2 linked regions of the Homo sapiens genome follow. The main gene of each other region encodes a partner of the protein of the gene in region 2 in a complex. Each region holds a gene or a part of one and is shown on either strand. Other genes may lie near its edges. A codon is read from its position in the direction of its gene.

What was found.
Region 1: the proteins of ITCH (region 2) and TXNIP are in contact, whole or in part, in a crystal structure (PDB 5CQ2), measured with the Homo sapiens proteins. Residues at the interface, in NP_001244066.1 of Homo sapiens: Glu485, Arg487, Thr489, Tyr495, Val497, Asp498, His499, Arg502, Thr503, Thr504, Thr505, Tyr506, Leu516; in NP_006463.3 of Homo sapiens: Pro328 (codon at 900), Glu329 (codon at 897), Ala330 (codon at 894), Pro331 (codon at 778), Pro332 (codon at 775), Cys333 (codon at 772), Tyr334 (codon at 769), Val337 (codon at 760), Ile338 (codon at 757).

What each region holds. Positions count from the first base shown.
Region 1 is NC_000001.11:145,993,388-146,000,882, forward strand, and holds the start of TXNIP (thioredoxin-interacting protein), read right to left. Parts: upstream 3,193-7,495; 5' UTR 2,880-3,192; coding exon 2,630-2,879; intron 2,358-2,629; exon of another isoform or gene 2,175-2,357; coding exon of another isoform or gene 2,090-2,174; coding exon 2,017-2,089; intron 1,905-2,016; coding exon 1,757-1,904; intron 1,645-1,756; coding exon 1,542-1,644; intron 1,414-1,541; coding exon 1,157-1,413; intron 1,051-1,156; coding exon 894-1,050; intron 781-893; coding exon 629-780; intron 500-628; coding exon 464-499; 3' UTR 1-463. UniProt on the Homo sapiens protein: May act as an oxidative stress mediator by inhibiting thioredoxin activity or by limiting its bioavailability.
Region 2 is NC_000020.11:34,358,479-34,366,462, reverse strand, and holds the start of ITCH (E3 ubiquitin-protein ligase Itchy homolog), read right to left. Parts: upstream 3,191-7,984; 5' UTR 3,114-3,190; intron 1-3,113. UniProt on the Homo sapiens protein: Acts as an Acts as an E3 ubiquitin-protein ligase which accepts ubiquitin from an E2 ubiquitin-conjugating enzyme in the form of a thioester and then directly transfers the ubiquitin to targeted substrates.

The sequences.
Region 1 (7,495 bases), on a different chromosome or scaffold from region 2:
TGGCCACAATTTCCCTTTTCATCTTCCTAGTTTGTTAAATTGGCTCTTCTCCACATGATACGTAAGTTCAAGGTCCAAAGTTCCTATCACAATTTACAAAAAGCCTCCAAAAAACCTTGAAAAGCTTACGCCAGGAGGCCATTTTTACCTGACCCGAAACTATCGAAAAGGCCTCAATTTTCAAGGAGATCTGAGAAAATGGATGGGCCTGAGTTTTTCTAGTTATTTTTAAACCCATCCAACAAACACCCCTGTATCACAACATGGGCGCTGGCTGAGGATGAGTCCGCATCCTTTAAGGCCCAGGAGATTGCCTGCTGACCACCTCCTACATTAGGAAGTCAGAGGCTAAGGTGGACCCACACTCCATTGCAGAGACTGTTGAGTCTCTGAAAAAGTGAGTGTCCAGGAAGAGAGACAAAAAGAAACAAGTAGGTAAAGCTGCTTCTTTTCTTCCACATGCTCACTGCACATTGTTGTTGAGGATGCAGGGATCCACCTAAAGAAAGAAACAGACTATTTCAGTTCAGGTAAGAACAAAAAGAACAAACCAGTTTAGCAATCCGTCTAAGTCAACTTCTTATAGAAAGCTTAGGACAAATTTAACAGTAAAGATGACAATCCTCACCTCAGTATAAGTCGGTGGTGGCATGAACTTGAACTCAGGGGCATACATAAAGATAGGGCTGTCTTGAGAGCCATCCATGTCATCTAGCAGAGGAGTGGTTGGGCTCTCCAATCGGTGATCTTCAGGAATGACATCCATATAGCAGGGAGGAGCTAGAAAAGAAAATATGGCCACATAAGAATCCTGCCCAAGAAATGCTGGACCATCACAATTTTACAAACCCAGGTAGACCAGAAACAAAGAAAAGACATTAGGTCTGGCTCACCTTCTGGGGTATCAGGGATGTTCAGATCTACCCAACTCATCTCAGAGCTGGTTCGGCTGGCCATGCTGGATGTTCTGCTGCTTAGACCTGATCTGCTGCCAATTACCAGGGGCAGGTCAAGGATGACCTTCTTGGATCCAGGAACGCTAACATAGATCTAGAAAGGAAGATGGCAGTTTATTACACCAGAGGTCTGGAGAAACAAGACAGCTGTGGTAACAGATGAACAATTTCTCTGCTGAAGCCACCCTGCATCTACCCACCAGTAAGGAATATTCAACTCGAAGGATGTTGCAGCCCAGGATAGAAGGCCTGATCTTCTGAACCCGAAGGCTCTTGCCACGCCATGATGCGCATGTCCCTGAGATAATATGATTGCCTCTGACTGATGACAACTTCTGAGTCAGCACCTTGGTCTGGCCATTGGCAAGGTAAGTGTGGCGGGCCACAATGGCAGCTTTGGGGACCACAATTCGGGAACATGTATTCTCAAAGTCAGCATGGATGGAAATCTCATCACCTAGCAATGAGAAAGATGAAAACTTACTGATACTCAGTATAGTTAATGACACTTCCTCTACCCCAGTCCCATGCCCTTGCCCCTAAACCCAGTTCCTGTTTTAACTGCCATAAGCACTAGGATTTTACCTTCACAGAATCCTTTTCTGTCAATTCGAGCAGAGACAGACACCCGCCCATCAGGAATGAACATGCAGGAAACTTTCTTTTCTTTTTTAGCAGACACAGGTGCCTATATAGAAGGGGATAAAAAGGTGTTTTGAGATGCTTCAATCTAATGCCCAAGACGTCTGATTTATCATCCTCATGACCCAGGAGAATAGAATCTTTAAAATGGATCTCACCATTAAATCAGGGGTATTGACATCCACCAGATCCACTACTTCAAAGTTTTTCTTTGTCTCTTGAGTTGGCTGGCTCGGGCGGTCAAGAAAAGCCTTCACCCAGTAGTCTACACACCCATATTTTCCTTTGAAGGATGTTCCCAGAGGCCTGTGTCAAGAAAATGAAAATTTTAAAACGCTCTCCAAGAACAGTAAGTGATCAAAGGAGGGCAAGATATTTTAGACAGAAAAGTTCAAAGATGCATTTAGCTGATATTTACCCCTGAGGAAGCTCAAAGCCGAACTTGTACTCATATTTGTTTCCAGGTCTCATGATCACCATCTCATTCTCACCTGAAGGGAAAGAAAATCGAGTAGCCATTAGGCTTGCTGTTACACTTAAAATGCATCTGTGTGATAAGGAATGCTTGGGTGGCATGCAAGGTATTGAAGTACCCCCAATTTCATCCCATATATATATTTTTTAATCCATCCCATATTGTTCTTAAAGAGAAATTCTGATGTATTTTGTCGGGCAGCAAGTTGCCAAGCCCTGCAATACTGAAAGATTCACCCAGGACAGTTCTCTACTAACATCTCAAATAGGAAGTAGACAAAGAATAAGCAACTTATGCACACATAAGACTTTAACTACCCGAGGCAACGCCCCTCAGGATCCCCTTTAGGACACAGCACCATAAAAAATTGTACAAATCACCCTTTTTTTTGGGGGGGGAGGAGAATGTCTGCAAATTAAAACAGAAAAAAGGAAGCAACAACACGTAATTCAAACCACTCAAACTGAGCAACTTAAAACATTTCGTACAGGTTTTGTGTATTCAATTCTCTTCTCTAATCAGCTTTCACCCTCCAACAATGAATTGGGCCGCTTACCTGTTGGCTGGTCTTCCAGAAGAAGCGTGTCTTCATAGCGCAGGTACTCCGAAGTCTGTTTGCACTGCTGGGATCCCTGCATCCAAAGCACTTTAGCCACTCCGCAAGCCAGGATCCTAACGGCTTTGACACGAGTAACTTCACACACCTCCACTATCACCCGGCCAGCCACCTTCTCGCCACTGCCGTACACCTTTTCAGGGTCGTTAAAGACCACCTCAAAAGACTTGATCTTCTTGAACATCACCATGATGGAACTGAGTTGGTTTTAAGAGTTAGAAATGACGGTGGAAGAAAAAAAAAGCTCCAAATCGAGGAAACCCCTTTGCAAAAAATTATTTCACTTTAAGGAATTAAGGTATTCTTAAGCAGTTTGAGCTTAAAAATAAAATAAGATTTAAACAAATGAATATTAACTACTAGGTTTTCGAAAAGGCGCCTAAAAAATATACGCCGCTGGTTACACTAAGCTAATTCAGAGAAAAAGCCTTCTTTCCCCCAATTGCTGGAGAAAAGATCCGATCTCCACAAGCACTCCTTTGGAGAAAAAGAGGGGTTAGTTTCAAGCAGGAGGCGGAAACGTCTCTATATAGTAGCCCGGGCCAGAAGAGCCACGCGAGCGCTGGCCCGGAGGCTCGTGCTGCCCTCGTGCACATCCCTCCCATTGGCTGCCCGGTCCTTGTTTACCAGGAGCCCGACCAATCAGTGAGATCGCTGTGGCGCGTGGACACGGTGTGCTCCTGGCTGGGAAAATGGTTGTTGCGCTCTGGAGCGGCGCAGGGAGGGGGGAAGGAGAGGAAGGAGAGGAAGGAGGGGAAGGAGGGGGCTGTTGAGCGTCTTCTCCCGGGTCCAGTGGAAGGAGGATCCCACTGACCCTAAAACCTAGCCAGGGCGACAGGCCATCGGAGGGCGGGTGTGGACGTTTCTGGTCTGAGAGCGGTGTTTTGAGGTAAAAGGAAAATGTGCTTATGAGGGAATTTCATGCCTAGTCTTAGCCAGTGCAGTTACTTTAGAGCCTGTCGTTATTCCTGGCTCATAAATAGCAAGTGTGTGAAAATCCCATAGCTCCAAGAATACTTTCAGGTTTGGGGCTGTGGAGCGCAGAATGCTTGGTGTTACTGTTCAGGAACAGCCCTTTGTCCTTCTCTTGCCCCGCATCCCTATTAAGTATAAAAAACACCACCGTCTCTGAGGGAAAGGAGAACTTTCAGGCCTCATTGTGTGTGTAGGACCGATGTCTTCTCCTTCCCGTTCCAATCCCTTGGGGCTAGGGCTGGGGGCTGCGTGCCTGTGCTGTTCGTCACCCACCCCCAGCTTGTACCCTCTCTTCTGTTCTCTCTGTTCTGTGGAACGGAAATAGGAGGGGCGTGTTTACATCCTGTTGCTTATCCTGTCATCTCTTCAATTTCTACCTGCAAAGTTGGGGAACACTTTGTCTGTGTTCCCCATTTACCTCATTACCTCTTTAGTGAGGTGTGTCCAGGCGCTCATTATCTCCCACTTCCTACCTGCTTCTGGAGGAAAAGGAAAAGCGGGAAAAAAAGGATGCTTCACTCTTTTCACTTTTTTCCAGTTATGTTCACTCTTTCTTGTCTCCATCCCCTCTTCCAACTCACTAAATCAAATGTACATCCATAAATCTGGTTAAAAGTGAGAAAGTCCTCTTGTTTATATCCAAATTTTCAGTGGAGAGATGGCCACACACCTGTTTGAAGGAACAATTTTAAAAACTATTTTCAAAGGTTTTTCCCTAAACGGTTTAGAAAACAGTAAGAAGGAAAAGAGAAGAAAGATCGGTCAACAGAGCACTATAAATTCAAGCCAGAAGAGACCCTACCCTCTCTCTTCATTCTTTGTTGGTTTCGTTTGGCCAGCTGTCAGATGGATTTTCCCCTGCTGGCTGTGAGATGCTTTAGGAGCTGAGTACTGAGAACTTACTCTTAAATGTAATAGGAAAAACCTGTATGCAAAAGTGCAGGGATTCTTCCTCCTTTTATTTGATTCATAGACCCTTCCTATATCTGTGCTGGGGTATCAGAAGATTATTATTTAATTCCTTGTGCTGGAAAGAGGAAGATAATGTCCCAAGATTGAGATGGGGAGGTAATTAAGAAGCATTCAAGTATATTGAAACCCTACCCAATCAGCAAAAAAAAAACAATATTCATTGCTGTTAAAGAGCCTTCTTCCTTCCTCAGACAGCCTAGCTGGATTGACACTCTAAGGCTAACGAGAGTTACAACTCAACCCCAATATTAAGCAAGCTCAAGAATAGGCATCATGAGTCTCTTCGAAAACACACACATGCATTAAACCCCAGGAACATGTTGATCCTTAGGGTGTGTTTGAGGCGGCACCCTGTTCTAGAAACTTAACCAGCTAGGCTTGAGGTGTTTTCAGTTGGTTAACAATATTGATTGAGTTACTGGGAGCAGAGGAGGTGGAACTCTGACTGAAGTAATTTTTTTTTTAAGGTGGAATCTTGCTCTGTTGCCTAGGCTGGAGTGCAGTGGCCTGACCCCAGCTCACTGCAACCTCTGCCTCCTGGGTTAGAGCGATTCTCCGCCTCAGCCTCCTGAGTACCTGGCATTACAGGCATGCATCACCACGCCCAGCTAATTTTTGTATTTTTAGTAGAGATGGGGTTTCACCATGTTGCCCAAGATGGTCTTGAACTCCTCCTGACCTCAGGTGATCCACCCGCCTTGGCCTCCCAAAGTGCTGGGATTACAGGCGTGAGCCACCGTGCCTGGCCTGACTGAAGTAATTTTAAAAGTTCAAAATTGTGGCTTCTGGGAGAACGTTTAGTTTGATGGGTATGAAAGTGTAACTATCAAACATCAAAATGCTGACAAATATATGAATCAATATTGTTAACTACATAGTCAATATTGTTAAATATTGTTAAATCTTAACTACATACATTTTGAGGGAATAGGAAAGATGGTGGCTAGTGATGGATCAGGGTGGTGGTAATATGGGACATCTTAAGACATCCAACTCTCAACCAGGTTGGAATGCAGTGTCACTTGGCTCACTGAAACCTCCACATCCCAGGCTCAAGTGATTCTCCCACCTCAGCCTCCCGAGTAGCCGGGACTACAGATGTGCTCCACCACGCCTAGGTAATTTTTGTATTTTTGGTAGAGATGGGGTTTCACCATGTTGGCCAGGCTGGTCTCAAACTCCTGCTCAAGCAGTCCGCCTACCTGGCCTCCCAAAGTGCTGGGATTATAGGCACCCTTTTCCCTTTCAATTTATTTGATATTTATGTGGGCACATCTCTGAAGTACTGAATTGCTGAGTTTTAAAAAATCCTATGACAATTCTCTCGTTCTAAGTTTCTCTTCTGGGCTCTGGTTTCCTTGTATCTTCCCATTTGCAGAGCTCACTACAGACTACGTTGCTCTGTGTTATGCCTGGGTTCCTTTAAATGCCAAAAAATTATTTAGCTTTGGCAGCAGCTGCTGCCTACCAGGCCTGTAGCCAAGGCATGTTCTGAAGTGGAGTCCTCCTGGACACGGTTGTTTACGACCTTTCACCTTGTAACCTGGTATTCTGATAAAAACCTGCCCCGATTCTCCTTTCCCAGTTCTTGGGTCTAAGAAGAAAGAAATTTTGTAAACTCTTGTCCTAAAATCAGGGTATAAAAACACTTGTGAGGTTTGGGAAAAGGGGTGGGCCAAGGAGGAACAGCAAAGTAGGGCACAGTCAAAGAGTTTTGCAAGTTGGATCATCTTTATCTGCCCCTTCTCTACCCTCTTCAGTCCCAGTGCCAACAGGAAACCAAGTGGTGATTGTTGTTTGTTTGCTTTACTGCAGGTGACAGAATAAAGCCAGCAGTTTCAGGGAGGGAAGTGCCCTCAGCACTTTGTTGCCAGTCAGAGACAAGACACTGATTGCATTTCTCTTTTCTTTAACCTCTGGCCTGACAAACATTTAGAACATGAAGACTCATAGTTCTTAATGCAGAACAAAGCCCTTTCTTGGTCCTTTTAATCACTTCTCTCACCTCTACTCTGTAAACTTCCCTTTTACCCTTACCCATTTTCCTTTCTCTCTCTCTTTTTTTTTCCACATAGGGTCTCACTCTCAACCAGGTTGGAATGCAGTGTCACTTGGCTCACTGAAACCTCCGCATCCCAGGCTCAAGTGATTCTCCCACCTCAGCCTCCCGAGTAGCTGGGACTACAGATGTGCTCCACCACGCCTAGGTAATTTTTGTATTTTTGGTAGAGATGGGGTTTCACCATGTTGGCCAGGCTGGTCTCAAACTCCTGCTCAAGCAGTCCGCCTACCTCGGCCTCCCAAAGTGCTGGGATTATAGGCACCCTTTTCCCTTTCAATTTTTTCCCTAAGGAATTTAGAGGCAAATTAAGAGTTTGAAGACTGCCCCAAGTCATAGATCAATAAGAATAAATTAACAATTGTAAGCCAGGTGTGGTGGCTCATGCCTGTAATCCCAGCACTTTGGGAGGCTGAAATGGGAAGATCACTTGAGGCCAGGAATTCAAGAAGATCACCCTGGGCATTGTAGTGAGACCCCATCTCTCTTTAAAAAAAAAAAAAAAGGCTGGGCGCGGTGGCTCACGCCTGTAATCCCAGCACTTTGGGAGGCTGAGGCAGGCAAATCACGAGGTCAGGAGATTGAGACCATCCTGGCTAACACAGTGAAACCCCGTCTCTACTAAAAATACAAAAAATTAGCCGGGTGTGGTGGCAGGCGCCTATAGTCCCAGCTACTCGGGAGGCTGAGGCAGGAGAATGGCGTGAACCTGGGAGGTGGAGCTTGCAGTGAGCCGAGATCTCGCCACTGCACTCCAGCCTGGGCGACAAAGTGAGACTCCATCTCAAAAAAAAAAAAAG
Region 2 (7,984 bases):
ACTTGAACACAGGAGTTAAGACCAGACTGGGCAACGTAAAGAGAACCTTTCTCTACAAAAAAATTTTAAAAATTAGCCAGGCATGCTAATGCATGCCTGTTGTCCCAGCTACTCAGGGAGGCTGGGGTGGGAAGATCACTTGAGCTCTGGAGGTCCTGTCACTGCACTCCATCCTGCGTGACTGGGTGAGACCCAGTCTCAACAACAAAAAATCACTTTTCATATACTTGCTTCCTTTAACCTTTCTGACCTTGCGTTTCAAAATGCTCTCCTTCCCCATTCCACTCCACACTCCCTGAACCCTTTTTGTTCCATAATCCTCTGAATTTACACACAGCATTAAGGCATTCACTCAGCCTACCCTGTCCTTCTCTTTCCCCGCCCTTTTCACACTCCTACTCTTCATGTAAGACCCAATGTGGGTTCAGGGGCAAATCTTGCCTCTTCTAACCAATCCTCCACCCAGCCACACACACAGAATTGGCCACTTCCTCTTTCGTCTCAAAGCTTTTTGACCTTTCCTTGGTAAGTCTACAGTACCATTTGCCCTCAGTGGTTCCCAAGACCATCAGAATTACCTAAGGCATGTGTTAAAAATAAATTGGTTGAAGCCAACCCAGACCTACTAAATCCATCTCAGAAGGTAAGACCCTGGAATTTCTAAGCTCTCCTAATTATTCTAATGGTCAAATTTGGGGACTACTGGTTTGTCTGCCTCTCCCAATAAGTGAAAAGATGTATTTTTTAGGGCCAGGAGTGGCGGCTCATGCCTGTAAACCCAGCACTTTGGGAGGCCAAGGCAGGTGGATCACGAGGTCAGGAGTTCGAGAGCAGCCTAGCCAATATGGTGAAAACCCATCTCTACTAAAAAATACAAAAAAATTACCGGGAGTGGTGGCACGCGCCTGTAGTCCCAGCTACTACGGAGGCTGAGGCAGAAGAATTGCTGGAACCCGGGAGGCGGAGGTTACAGTAAGCCGAGATCACACCACTGTACTCCAGCCTGGGTGACAAAGTTAGATTCCGTCTCAAACAAACGAAAAAGATGTATTTTTTTCTAAAGAATGTAGAAATGTTTGATTCTAGAATACACTGAAGAAGTAGTCTGTACTCATTTTTTTAATTTCATATGATATCCTTGGTGACTTGACCTGTATGCTGAATGTAATGGAATTCCTTTTGGACTCACAAAACTTAAATTCACAGTTCAAAGAAGCAGTAGAATTTCCACCTTCATTTCTAAATTTTTTTTTTTATTTTTTGAGACAGGGTCTCACTCTGTCACCCAGGCTGGAATGCAGTGGCAACGGTAACAGCTCACCGCAGCCTCGACCCCCCGGAATCAGGTGATTCCCCCACCTCAGCCTCCTGAGTATCTGGGACCACAGGCGCCTGCCACCACACCCGGCAAATCTTTGTATTTTTTGTAGAGACGGGGTTTCACGATGTTGCCCAGGCTGATCTCCAATTCCTGGGCTCACGTAATCCGCCCACCTCGGCCTCCCAAATTGCTGGGATTACAGGCGTGAGCCACCACACCCATCCCATTGCTTTTTTTTTTTTTTTTTTTTTGAGGCGGAGTCTCGCTCTGTCGCCCAGGCTGGAGTGCAGCAGCGAGATCTCGGCTCACTGCAGCCTCCACCTCCCGGGTTCAAGCCATTCTCCTGCCTCAGCCTCCCTAGTAGCTGGGACTACAGGCGCGCGCCACCACGCCCAGGATTTTTTTTTTTTTTTTTTTGTATTTTTAGTAGAGACGGGGTTTCACCATGTTGGTCAGGATGGTCTCGAACTCCTGACCTCATGATCTGCCCGCCTCGGCCTCCCAAAGTGCTAGGATTACAGGCGTGAGCCACACACAGCACCCGGCCCATTTCTTAATTTTAAAAATAAATCGTAGCTTAAATAAACCTGTAAATACACATAGCAAGCTCTCAGCAGATCTGCCATGAGAACTTCACCTCAACTGATAAACCATTCCTTAGCCGATTTTGAGAATGGAAATACACTGCCTTTACATACTTCCTGAAGATCGAATTCTATCAGGAAAAGATGCAGGAGAACCCACCTAAGTGGGTGGCTGGCTCCAGGGTCTTACTAATTTTCAAGGCAAAAATCCCACAATTCCCCATCCCCCACTCCAAACCAAGTATACTGTAGCTGTGGAAGAATGGCAGAAAATGTAATAAGATTAGGATACGAATACAACCAAGAAAACAAGGTTGCGTTGTTATTGGGGATAATGAATTCCTGGCCCTTTACAAGTTCACCTGGTTACATGTCCAACTAACTTTAGGCCCAGCGTCTACTTCGGGCGCACAAATTCTGCGATTCTCTTTTCTGTCGCGGACGGGAACTGTCTTGGAAAACTTGAGTTCTCCACTTAAAAGTCATGTCATCATGCTTCGACCCTTAGAATACGTTCAACGGCTACTTTTTTCTTTTCTCTGCTAAAGAAAAGGGCACTCTCCGGAGGAAGGGCAGTGACAGCTCCACGTCTGCAAAAGTCGGCGCCGCCACGACGGTGGCGGACGTCGGGGAGGGCGCCGGAGCCGGGACCACCACGCCGGGGGGACAATGGAAGGAGGAGGCGAGTGGGAGAGAGAAGGGGAGGCAGCCGCTGTGCTGGGCCCTTCTAGCGACTGGGGGCTCGGAAAAGTCTCGAGAAGGCCAGCTGGGTGGCGGGGGACCCGGCCGCCGCCCCTCACAGGGCCACGTCGCCCGCGCCGGCCCCGCCGCCGGGCCCCGCGCGTAGGCCGAACCGCTGGAGAGTGGCCCCAGGCGGGGCTGAGGGGCGAGGGGCCGGACGGTACCCACGCCCGTCGTGGCCCAGCCCTTTCACAACTTGGAGCCCGCGAGGCGAAGGCCTCCGGAAGCCTGTGCCAGACACTGATCCCTCCGAACGTCCAGACAGCCCACCCCCACCGCCCGGCCCGGGCCAGTAGCCCGAGCTCCCCGCGCCCCCGACAGACACCGGCTCTGGAAGAAGGAGCAGCCGCGGCTCTGGGGTCCCGAACCGCGCGTCCCACTCCTCTACCCTTGTTCTCCCCGAACATTCTCATCCGGACTCCCTCCCTCTCCCGAGAACTGCCCCGAGTTCGCCCACGGGGGTTTACCGGGACTCGGGGCGGCGGCGACTCCTCAGTCCCTAGACTAAGATGGCAGCCGGTCCCGAGCCCCGACCACAGCTACTAGAGCGAGTTAGCAGCTAAAGCGCAGGCGCCTGAGCGCGGAAGTGGTCTAGACTACAAGCCCCAGCAGGCCTTGCGCGCCAGCCGTCCGGCCCGCCCCTGGCTTGAAGAGCTGGCTGCGGTGGTAAATCAGTTAAATCCCAGTTTTCCTCAGCTCCAGGTGAGATGGGCGCGAGCGGCTCCCAGCACCTCCAGGCTTTTTTTTTTTTTTAACACCCCGCCCACCAGAGCCTATAAGGACTGTGATTCTCAAACTATGGTGTGCATCAGAATCACCTAGAGAGCTTATTAAAACTTACACTGCTGACCCCCACCCCCAGAGTTTCTGATCAGAAGATCTGGCATAGGAGGATAGGGTCTGATAATTTGCATGTCCAACAAGCTGTCTAGTGATACTGCTAGTGAGTGAAATCATAATTTGAGAACCAATGGGCTATATAGCTTAGTTTATAACTTAGTTGTTCTTTTTTCTTTTTCTTTTCCTTTTCTTTTTTTTTCTTCTTTTTGAGATAAGGTCTCACCCTTCACCCAGGCTGGAGTGCAGTGGTGCAGTCATAGCTCACTACAGCCTCACACTCCTGGGCTCAAGCGAGCCTCCCACCTGGGCTTCCTGAGTAGCTGGGACAGCAGTTGAGCACCACCACACCCGACTAATTTTGTTCTATTCTTTGTAGAGATGGGGATGGGGTGGAGTGCGGATGGGATGGGGCGGGAATAGGGCCACGGTGTCGCCATGTTGCCCAGGCTGGTCTCCAGCTCCTGGGCTCAAGCGATACTCCCTCCTCGGGCCTCCCAATCGCTGAGATTACAGATGTGAGCCACTGCACCTGGCCTGGCTTAGCCTTTAACAATGTACATTAAAGGGCGTGGTTAAAAAGAAAATAAAAGAAAAAAAATGTACACTTGAGAGTTACACTGACCGGATTCAAATCCTCCCTTTTCTACCTTTTAACTGGGTGCCCTTAGGGATGATGACAACAGCTTAGTGGAGCCAACGTGGCCTGTCCGGTATTCTAAGAGCTGATACCAAGCTCCCTTTATTCTCACAACAAACCTATTACAGAAATACCATTATTATCCCCATTTTACAAATATATAAACTAAGTCACATACTTGATAAGAACCCAGGCAGTCTGGCGTGAAAGTCCGTTGTCTTAACCTTCTTCATGGATTGCTTGTGAGAAATAATAGGCTATGCAGGCAGAGACTCAGAGGTATGACTAAGTGCTCAATACTTAGTGACCTTTGCTATTACTGTTTAGCCTGTTTCCTCCTAATGAAAATAGTATTTTGCCATCTGGAAAGTCACATTTTTCAAAGTGACTTTTTTTTTTTTTTTTTTTTTGAGACAGAGTCTTGCTCTGTCACCCAACCTGGAGTGCAGCGGTGCAATCATAGCTCACTGCAGCCAACCTCCTGGGCTCAAGTGATCCTCTCACCTCAGCTTCCTGAGTAGCTGGGACTCCAGGCTCAAGCCACCACACTATCCTAATTGTTTTTATTTTTGTAGAGACGTGGACTCCCTGTGTTGCCCAGGCTGTTCTCAGACTCCTAGGCTTGGCTAGGGTCAGTGGCTTACACCTGTAATCCCAGGAGTTAGGGAGGCCAAGGCAGGCAAATCACTTGAGGTCAGGAGTTTGAGACCAGTCTGGCCAACATGGTGAAACCCCGTCTCTTTTTTTTTTTTTTTTTTTTTTTGAGACAGAGTATTGCTCTGTCGCCCAGGCTGGAGTGCAGTGGCGCAATCTTGGCTCACTGCAACCTCCGCTCGCCTCCTGGGTTCAAGTGATTCTCCTGTCTCAGCCTCCTAAGTAGCTGGGACTACAAGCGCATGCCATCACGCCTGGCTAATTTTTGTATTTTTAGTAGAGTTGGGTGAGCCACCACGCCTAGCCTTGTGAAACCCCTTCCCTACTAAAAACACAAAAATTAGCCAGGTGTGGTGGCGGGTGCCTGTAATCCCAGCTACTTGGGAGGCTGAAGCACGATAATTGATTGAACCCAGGAGGGGGAGGTTGCAGTGACCCAAGATCACGCCATTGCACTCCAGCCTGGGCGACTCAGCGAGACTCTGTCTCAAAAAACAAACAACAAAAGAAACATAAAGGCTGGGCGCAGTAGCTCACTCCTATAATCCCAGCACTTCGGGAGGCTGAGGCGGGTGGATCACCTGAGGTCAGGAGTTTGAGACCAGCCTGGCCAACATGGTGAAATCTTGTCTCTACTAAAAATGCAAAAATTTGTTGGGCATGGTTTGGGAGGCCGAGGCGGATGGATCAACTGAGGTCAGGAGTTCAAGACCAGCCTGGCTAACATGGTGAAACCCCATCTCTACTAAAAATGCAAAAATTAGACCGGGCACGGTGGCTCACGCCTATAATCCCAGCACTTTGGGAGGCCAAGGCGGGCGGATCACGAGATCAGGAGTTCAAGACCAGCCTGGCTATCATGGTGAAACCCTATCTCTACTAAAAATACAAAAATTAGCCGGGCGTGGTGGCGGGTGCCTGTAATCCCAGCTAGTCAGGAGGCTGAGGCAGAGAATTGCTTGGACCTGGGAGGCGGAGGTTGCAGTGAGCCAAGATCGTGCTACTGCACTCCATCCTGGGCCACAGAGCGAGAATCTGTCTCAAAAAAAAAAATGCAAAAATTAGTTGGGCATGGCACACCCCTGTAATCTCAGCTACTCGGGAGGCTGGGGTGGGAGAATTGCTTGAACTCAGGAGACGGAGACTGCAGTGAGCCAAGATCACGCCACTGCACTCCATCCTGAGTGACAGAGTGAAACCCCATCTAAAAAAAATAAAAAATCAAACTCCTAGGTTCAAGCCTTCAAGCCTCAAGCAAAGTACTTTCAAAACCACTTCATGTTTCCTGCAACATGCCTTAGGAAAGATTGCTAAAATACAGATTCCTGCGCCCCATCCTCATTCAGTTTCTCTAGTGCAGTGGTTTTCAAACCTCAGTACTTATCAGAATTGCCTGCAAAGTTAGTTAAACTGTAGGTTGCTGAGGCCACTCCTAGAGTTTCTGATTCAGTAGGTCTGGGGCAGGGCCTGAGAATTTGCTTTTTTTTTTTTTGGAGACTGAGTCTCACTCTGTCGCCCAGGCTTGAGTGCAGTGGCCCAACCTCCGCTCACTGCAACCTCTGCCTCCCGGGTTCAAGCGATTCTCCCGCCTCAGCCTCCCGAGCAGCTGGGATTACAGGTGCATGCCACCACGACTGACTAATTTTTGTATTTTTGTAGAGATGGGGTTTCACCATATTGGCCAGGCTGGTCTTGAACTCTTGAGCTTGTGATCTGCCCGCCTTAGCCTCCCAAAGTGCTGGGATTATAGGCGTGAGCCACCGCACCCGGCCAGTACAAGGTATTTTTATGACCATTATACAGAGAAGAAAACTGAGTGTGACAGAAATTAAATGGCTTGTTGAAGATCACTCAGCCAGGAACCAGGGATCTAACCCTAAGTCCTGTAGCTCCAGATTCTGTATTCACCTACAATTTTAAAAACTATGTAAGGTTAGGCAAAACTAGTCTATGGTGTTAGAAGTCAGGATACTGGTTACTCTTTGAGGGGAGGGTGTACCTGGAAGAAGGCACAAAGACACCTCTCAGGATAGGTAATAATGTTCTGTGCCCTGATCTGGGTGGTGTTACTGTTTCAGGAAAAGGGTCCTGATTCAGACCCCAAGAGAGGGTTCTTGGATCTCGTGCAGGAAAGAATTTGGGGCAAGTCCATACAATAAAGTGAAAACAAGTTATTTATTTATTATTCTTTTTCAGACAGAGTTTTGCTCTTGTCACCCTGGCTGGAGTGCAGTGGGGCAATCTCAGCTCACTGTAACCTCCGCCTCCTGGGTTCAAGTGATTCTCCTGCCTCATCCTCCTGAGTAACTGGGATTACAGGCGCACACCACCACACCCAGCTAATTTTTGTATTTTTAGCAGAGGTGGAGTTTCACCATGTTGGCTAGGCTGATCTTGAACTCCTGACCTCAGGTGATCCACCTGCCTCGGCCTCCCAAAGTGCTGGGATTACAGGCATGAGCCACGGCACCCAGCCGATAATGAGTTTATTAAGAAAGTAAAGGGGCCGGGCGTGGTGGCTAACGCTTGTAATCCCAGCACTTTGGGAGGCTGAGGGGGGTGGATCACGAGGTCAGGAGTTCAAGACCAGCCTGGCCAACATAGTGAAACCCCACCTCTACTAAAAATACAAAAATTAGCTGGGCGTGGTGACGTGCGCCTATAATACCAGCTACTCCAGAGGCTGAGGCAGGAGAATTGCTTGAACCAGGACCCAGGAGGCAAGGTGGAGGCTGCAGTGAGCCGACATCGTACCACTGCACTCCAGCCTGGGCAACAGAGCAAGACTCCATCTCAAAAAAAAAGAAAAAGAAAAAAGAAAGTAAAGGAGGCCGAGCGTGGTGGCTCACACCTGTAATCACACCACTTTGGGAGGCTGAGGCGGGTGGATCACTGGAAGTCAGGTGTTTGAGACCATCCTGGCCAACATGGTGAAACCCCATCTCTACTAAAAATACAAAAAAAGTTAGGCAGGCATGGTGACGCACGTCTGTAATCCCAGCTACTCAGGAGGCTGATGCAGGAGTATCGCTTGAACCCAGGAGGTAGAGGTTGCAGTGAGCGGAGATCCTGCCACTGCATTCCTGCCTGGGAGACAGAGCAAGACTCCCTCTAAAAAAAAAAAAAGAAAGTAAAGGAATAAAAGAATGGCTACCCCATAGTCAGAGCAATGGCTCGAGATGCTGGTCTAAGGATAGAGTTATTTCT